Linked DNA regions of Homo sapiens. The protein of the gene in region 1 purifies or fractionates together with the protein of each later gene. This does not show direct contact. Each region holds a gene or a part of one and is shown on either strand. Other genes may lie near its edges.

Evidence for each region.
Region 2: the proteins of ANXA5 (region 1) and PCK2 fractionate together in Homo sapiens (co-fractionation; one large-scale study listed by BioGRID). This does not show direct contact.

What each region holds. Positions count from the first base shown.
Region 1 is NC_000004.12:121,676,458-121,680,110, forward strand, and holds part of ANXA5 (annexin A5), read right to left. Parts: exon of another isoform or gene 2,038-3,653; coding exon 1,958-2,037; intron 1,494-1,957; coding exon 1,437-1,493; intron 1-1,436. UniProt on the Homo sapiens protein: This protein is an anticoagulant protein that acts as an indirect inhibitor of the thromboplastin-specific complex, which is involved in the blood coagulation cascade.
Region 2 is NC_000014.9:24,100,683-24,104,335, forward strand, and holds the end of PCK2 (phosphoenolpyruvate carboxykinase [GTP], mitochondrial isoform 1 precursor), read left to right. Parts: exon of another isoform or gene 1-71; intron 72-2,070; coding exon 2,071-2,208; intron 2,209-2,477; coding exon 2,478-2,573; intron 2,574-2,827; coding exon 2,828-3,282; 3' UTR 3,283-3,443; downstream 3,444-3,653. UniProt on the Homo sapiens protein: Mitochondrial phosphoenolpyruvate carboxykinase that catalyzes the conversion of oxaloacetate (OAA) to phosphoenolpyruvate (PEP), the rate-limiting step in the metabolic pathway that produces glucose from lactate and other precursors derived from the citric acid cycle.

The sequences.
Region 1 (3,653 bases):
CAGTGGAAGCCATGGGTTTGTTTCTTTATCCATAAAAGGGAAATTGCCCCTTTCTGGTAGAGTTATGTGCTCATTCATTCATCAGTTATTTACTGAGCACCTACTCTATGCCAGAAGCTGAGGATACAATTGAACTGACAGCTCAGGGGGCCCAGGAAGGCAGTGAAGTAAATAGATGGCTTCCAGAGAACGTGGCAAGAACTGTGACAGGAAGCCTGGGGGCGGGGGGGGGTATGGTTTTCCCTGTGAGGGGCACCTAACTCTAAAGTATCTAAGCTGAAGACTGACTCTTGAAGAGGACTCAGGTGAAGCGGGGTGGGAGGGGCAAGAGGGCAGAGAGAGCATGTGAGAGAGGCTGGAGGCATAAGTAAACAACACACAGATAACAAAGGGGCTTGTAACCCATTCAGGAACCCGGACTTTATCCTGAGGGCAATGGAACCACCAGAGTCTGAAGGGGCTGGACACAATTGGCTTGCATTTTCTAAGACAGAGTGAAGCAAGAGTCAAATACTGCACAGAGAGCCCTCGGTAAACATTCAGTTCTTTTTTTCTCTCCAGCTAGACAGAGATGACAGCATTCTGAAACCATTATAAAATCAACCTACCCAAAAGAATAACCGCTCTCCTCTTTCCTGTTAGCAAAGTGAGATCGCATATCCATGGGTTGTTCCACTGGAGGAATGAATATGGCTCTTCCTTTTTCAATGATACATGACAAACAACCAAGAATTGTATATTCTCTTAATTGAAACATGTGACCAGAAAGAGGTCTATGATTGGTGGTTCTAGGAACCCAAGTAATTCCTTTATTACCAATTTCCAGTTTTCAGCTCTCATGTTTCAAATTTCCTTTCCTATATTTTAATAACTGTTTTATTAACCAGACTGAGACTTTATAGGGGTTTATAAGTCACTTAAGAGGAAATTTTCATTTGGAGTCACTAAAAAGCTGCTGACAGAAGACCAATCCTACTTAAAATTCTGTCGAAGGAAATGCAGAGAAATTTCCTAATACCAAAATAACTTGTCATCTCTTATGTAATTAAACACCACTTACTGTTAAATACTTTATTCTTTCTTCTTTATCTTCTCCTGCTAAGAGACCCACTGCATAATTGGCAGTGGAAGTAATAACACTGTTTTTTGGTAAAATTCTCTATTTTGTGAATGTTCAATAATCACAAAAAAAAACATGTCTAGTTGGAACTCACTATATAATTTATTTTATTTCGTTTCAGCTTTAAGGTAAAATATTTTGCTGACCAGGTCAGAATAAGAAAAAGCTACTTATGTAGGTCTTATGCTATGTAAATAACCCATTAACAAGATTATCACTAGAAGCTATTACAACATACATTGTGATTTTTCATTACCATGAATTATTTCTTCATTTCTACAGCATAATAAAGTCATCATATCCTGGTGTCACTCACCTGAGCATCTTGTTCAACTTGAGCTTCATCAATTCCAGCATCAGGGTCTCTGTTAGCCTATGAGAGGTAATATGTCACATTACTGAACTATAGAGCATTCTCATTCAAAAGGAAAAATGGTTCCACCTGATGGTTATTCAATAACACTCTTTCTCTAGGAATAATATGCTTTTATTAAGATCAATCCTGCACTATTTCACGTTATCATCACCCAGCACTGTCCAAAACCAATAATGACCCTACTGATTTTAAATTCTATGAAAGAACAAGATACCGCTATCATTCTATGAAAGGAACAAGATACTACTATCTAAAACATGTATGAGTTAGCTGTTAAGAATTTAGACCAGATATTCTGAAACACAAACAAGCACAGGCAACATACAGTCAGAATCATCGCAGTAAGAATCAGCAAGTACCACAAATTATTAAAAGAATTTTAAGTGACCTTACTTAACTAGATTCAGCCCAGTCCAACTTCAGGCTTTTTAATCAAACTGTAATTAATCTCCACGCAATACCTGAAGGAGAACCACCAACATCCGCTGGTAGTACCCTGAAGTGTCCCCCACCACGTCATCTTCCAGGCTTGAGCCATATTCTGCAACAAAATAATTTCATACTTATTTACATCTTCTTTCAACTAGAAAAGTAATCTTGCCCCATTAATCAAATGAAAGCGATGTAAAAGAAGAAATAATTATATTTGGTTAACATAAATTCCCTCTATTCCATCTCTGAATGCTCTAAGCAAATGCTTTCAGTGAGTGGTTGGACAAAAATGAATTAAAGTCTCCCAAAGGCACTCAATTCAAACTTAAATCAAGACTCAGCCATTTAGAAATTCTCTCGACCAATGTAGTCATTAATCTATAGATACATGATGGTACTGGAAAGTCTCCAAAACACAATCAATCATAAGCTTAAACTCTGTTTTGCTTTCTTTCAAATCTTTTATATGGTTAGCTTCCAAATGTCTTCTATCTCTAATATTCTGAGATTTATTTCTTTGGGCATGGCCATCACTCCTAATAAGGTATTTTTCCTCTGCAGAAATAAAGTTAACTCTTGAGAGACAGCAATGATATTTTAAAGTAGGCCCCCCTCCCACCTCTATTTCCAGCTGCTCAATGTAAGCCCATATAAAAGGGGAGAACTGGGATCTACAAGAGTCTACAAGTCTTTCTCACTACTCTCAAACAGATGCTATTAAAGGAAAGGAGGCCTTACTCTAAGGTATTTAAATATTTAATTATTATGCAAAAGCAAACGAACTTTAAAAGCCTGAAACTTCTATTTTAAAAGGCCCAGAAGAGTTACATGTTTATTTCAACAAGTTACCCAAATACAAAACCTTGTAGGAATCTTTAATTCTTTCTTCTACACCAACACCTGTAAATATTAACCATTAAATCCTATCACGTTTCTCCTGTCCCTGATTTATCCTCCTCACACCTCTCACTCACCTAGGTTGGGCCACAATTCCTAAATACCTAGCTTACCTCCCACACACATAACTATCCAATTAGCCTCTCAATTCAAATCTCCTTCCTCCCTCAATTGTTCCTTCAGCACTCCACTGCTCATTCAGGAATTTACAGTGCCTGTGAATTAAGTCCAAATTCCTAATCCAGTCATGCAAAACCATCTATATCTGAGCCTAACCTCGCTTGTTCCATTTACCTCCCACAATGGACATGCACACATCCTCCACAGCAGCCAGGCCCTCTCCGTCCCTCAATACACTCTCCACAGTCCAGTCTCCATGCCATTAAAGACAGGCAGTACCTCACCCAAAAATATCTTTTCTACCTACTCAAAATGCACCTAGTCTTTTTTTCCCAGCTTTATTGAGTTATGATGGACAAATAAAAATTGTATATATTTAAGGTATACACCATGATGTTTTCATATATGTGTACGTTGTGAAATGATTACCACAATCAAGTTAATCAGCATATCCATCACTTCATATAGTCTATATTTTTGTGTGTGGTGAGGACATTTAAAATATACTGTATTCACAAATTTCAAGCATATAATAGTTATACTTTCACTATAGTCACCACGCTGTTCATGAGATCCCCAGAACTTATTCATCCTGCCTAACTAAAATCGTGTATGCTTTGACCAATATTTCACCAGTCCCTTCTCCCATTCACCCCACCCCTACACCCTAGCAAACACTGTTTTACTATCTGTTTCTATGAGTTCAAT
Region 2 (3,653 bases), on another chromosome or scaffold:
CCTCCTCTGCTCCAACTCTCCTCCTGCCACTTGGCTCCCACTGTCCCCTGTATAATAACCACTGTCTAAAGGTCAGTATTGTTACCGTCACCCTTCCCCTGTCCCTCCAAAGCATTCACCCCAATCCTTCCTACAAACAAAATCAGGTCAGTGCTTGAGTCTTTCCCAGAAGCTAGTTTCTGAATCCTGTCATTACCCTGGGCGCCTGGGAGTCCCACCTCTCCCTCAGCCCTGCACTCTGGACCTTCAGTATTCTTTCCATGGCCTTCTGCAGTCAGGCAGTCCAGACACCAAGAGGCAGGGGCAAAGAAGAGCATGGGAGGGGAGGCTGGCCTTGTAGTCACTGAAGCCTATATTCAGGTTTGCCAGGCTGGCCTAGCAGTCACCCTCCTTGCTTCATCTAATCACCCTTTATTTTTACTAACACCATCATTAAGCCCCCCTCAGCCTTCCCACCCAACTGAGAAATCCAAGAAACTTTCATCTTTCCCCACAGGCTAGTTCCCCAACCCTTTCATCATCTCCAGATTTGGGGGCATAACTAGGGCATCTTGTCCCCAGCTTCAATTCCCAGAATAATACCCTGTGTTAGGATTCTGCACTGGGTGCTGAAGAAGGATGGCTCTTATCTGCAATGGCGGGCAGAAGCTGGCGGATGGGAGAGGGTGGGGATTTTGGCCCCGTGGCTTCCCCACTCCCCAGGTCTGACCAGCAACCTCCAGCAGAGAAGGCACCATGTCCACTCAGGGGCCACACAGTGGTGCTTCATACATGTGCCACTGACTTAGTCCCAACCCCCCTCCAGGACACCTGAAGGTGCCAAGTGTGACCTGGGCTCCTGAGGTTATCCCTACCCATGTGATATCCCTATCTCTATTTTTCCAGCCCTATCACTTCATCAGGGTCTAAGCAGGGCAGGGAAATCACCAACATGTTGTTAGCTTTAAAATCAATTCCTTGCAGGGCACAGTGACTCACATCTGTAATCCCAGCACTTTGGGAGGCCGAGGCAGTTGGATCACCTGAGGTCAGGAGTTCGAGACCAGCCTGGCAACATGGCAAAACCCCGTCTCCAATAAAATACAAAAATTAGCCAGGCATGGTGGCTCATGCCTGTAATCCCAGCTACTCAGGAGGCAGGAAAATTGCTTGATCCCAGGAGGCAGAGGTTGCAGTGAGACAAGATCATGCCACTGCACTCCAGCCTGGTGACAGAGTGAGACTCCGTCTCATAACTAAATTAATTAAGTAAATAAAATCAGGCCAGGCGCAGTGGCTCATGCCTGTAATCCTACTACTTTGGGAGGCCAAGGTGGGCAGATCAGTTAAGGTCAGGAGTTTGAAACCAGCCTGGCCAACATGGTGAAACCCCATCTCTATTAAAAATACAAAAAAATCAGCCAGGCATGGTGGTGGGTGCCTGTAATCCCAGCTACTGGGGAGGCTGAGGTAGGAGAATTGTTTGAACCTGGGAGGCGGAGGTTGCAGTAAGCCAAGATTGCACCACTGCACTACAGCCTGGGCAACAGAGCAAGACTCTGCCTCAAAAATAAAAAGATAAAATAAATTCCTATTTGCATTTGGATAACTTAGGAGAACCTGTCTTCCCCGGTTTGCTGACGGAAAGTCAATTGTCTGAAGTACTAAGCTGACATTCTCAGTTTTTGCTTTAGGTTTGGGTATTCATTTAAATAATAATCTCACAAATAATGAAATAGTTTCTGGGGGAAAAATTATTATAACCTTATGCCCATATCTAACCCCATTCCCTTGAGCCCTGGTCAGTGCCAAGTGCCAGTAGCTTGGCACAAACATTAGTGCCCTGCCAAACCCCAATTCCTCTCCCACTCTTTTCTCACATAGCTCAGCTGGCCGCACCTTCATGGCTAAACAACCTGAGCTCTTGGAGATGCCCTGGCTCCCCTCTCTCTGCTCCTTATCACACAAGGTTCTAGGCAGCTGATGAGGCAAAAAAAAAAAAAGAACCCTGCAAGAATGTGTGCCCATGTATGTGTGTGTTGGGGGTCGACATGACCTTGGAAATAATAGTGTTTGTATTTCCTCTGCCAGGTGACAAGGAGCCCTGTGCACATCCCAACTCTCGATTTTGTGCCCCGGCTCGCCAGTGCCCCATCATGGACCCAGCCTGGGAGGCCCCAGAGGGTGTCCCCATTGACGCCATCATCTTTGGTGGCCGCAGACCCAAAGGTAAACAACATATGAGCTCCATGTTCTTGGCAAAAGGGCTATCTCTGTATTAGGGCCTACCTCCCTCCCTCTGATCCAGAGCCTCAGCCTGGATCTCACCTTTCTCCAGAGTTCTCCCCTGGTGAATGCAAACTTGGGAGGAGGCAAAGGGTCTGAAAATGGGATAGCCGAGGTCTTAGGAGAGAGAGTACCAGTCAAGCTCACCAGAAGGGCTGGAGTTAGGGTCCAAAGAAAAGGGCTGCCTGTGACTCTGTTCATTGGTGATCTAGGGGTACCCCTGGTATACGAGGCCTTCAACTGGCGTCATGGGGTGTTTGTGGGCAGCGCCATGCGCTCTGAGTCCACTGCTGCAGCAGAACACAAAGGTGAGCACCCTCACCATTCCTCCCTCTCCTGTGTGTGCACACAGCACGTCCTCTCTCCCTTCCTGAGCCAGACCTTCCTTTTGTCCACCCCTGGAGTCTGATATGGCCCCACCTCTTCCCACTTCTATCTTTTCCCCATCCCTGAAGATATTCAGAACCATAAGCCTTTCACAGCTTCCTCCAACTGGATGCAGGGTGCCCTTCCCTACCCCAGTGAGAAGGAAGATTCCTTACCCATCTTGCTTCCCCCCCAGGGAAGATCATCATGCACGACCCATTTGCCATGCGGCCCTTTTTTGGCTACAACTTCGGGCACTACCTGGAACACTGGCTGAGCATGGAAGGGCGCAAGGGGGCCCAGCTGCCCCGTATCTTCCATGTCAACTGGTTCCGGCGTGACGAGGCAGGGCACTTCCTGTGGCCAGGCTTTGGGGAGAATGCTCGGGTGCTAGACTGGATCTGCCGGCGGTTAGAGGGGGAGGACAGTGCCCGAGAGACACCCATTGGGCTGGTGCCAAAGGAAGGAGCCTTGGATCTCAGCGGCCTCAGAGCTATAGACACCACTCAGCTGTTCTCCCTCCCCAAGGACTTCTGGGAACAGGAGGTTCGTGACATTCGGAGCTACCTGACAGAGCAGGTCAACCAGGATCTGCCCAAAGAGGTGTTGGCTGAGCTTGAGGCCCTGGAGAGACGTGTGCACAAAATGTGACCTGAGGCCCTAGTCTAGCAAGAGGACATAGCACCCTCATCTGGGAATAGGGAAGGCACCTTGCAGAAAATATGAGCAATTTGATATTAACTAACATCTTCAATGTGCCATAGACCTTCCCACAAAGACTGTCCAATAATAAGAGATGCTTATCTATTTTACACAAGATTTGTGCTGTTTTCATTTCCCACCTATCTTCACAGGCTTCCCTCTAACACCTGTCTCACAATCATCTTCTTCCAGCCCCTAGAAGAAGCACAGCCTGGCACAATCAAAGATCTGTTTTACAGGTAGCTCTAGCACTGGGTCACAGACATAGGAATTGCTGGGAGAAGGCACTATCCACTCTATGTCCTGAGTTCTTAAAAAAA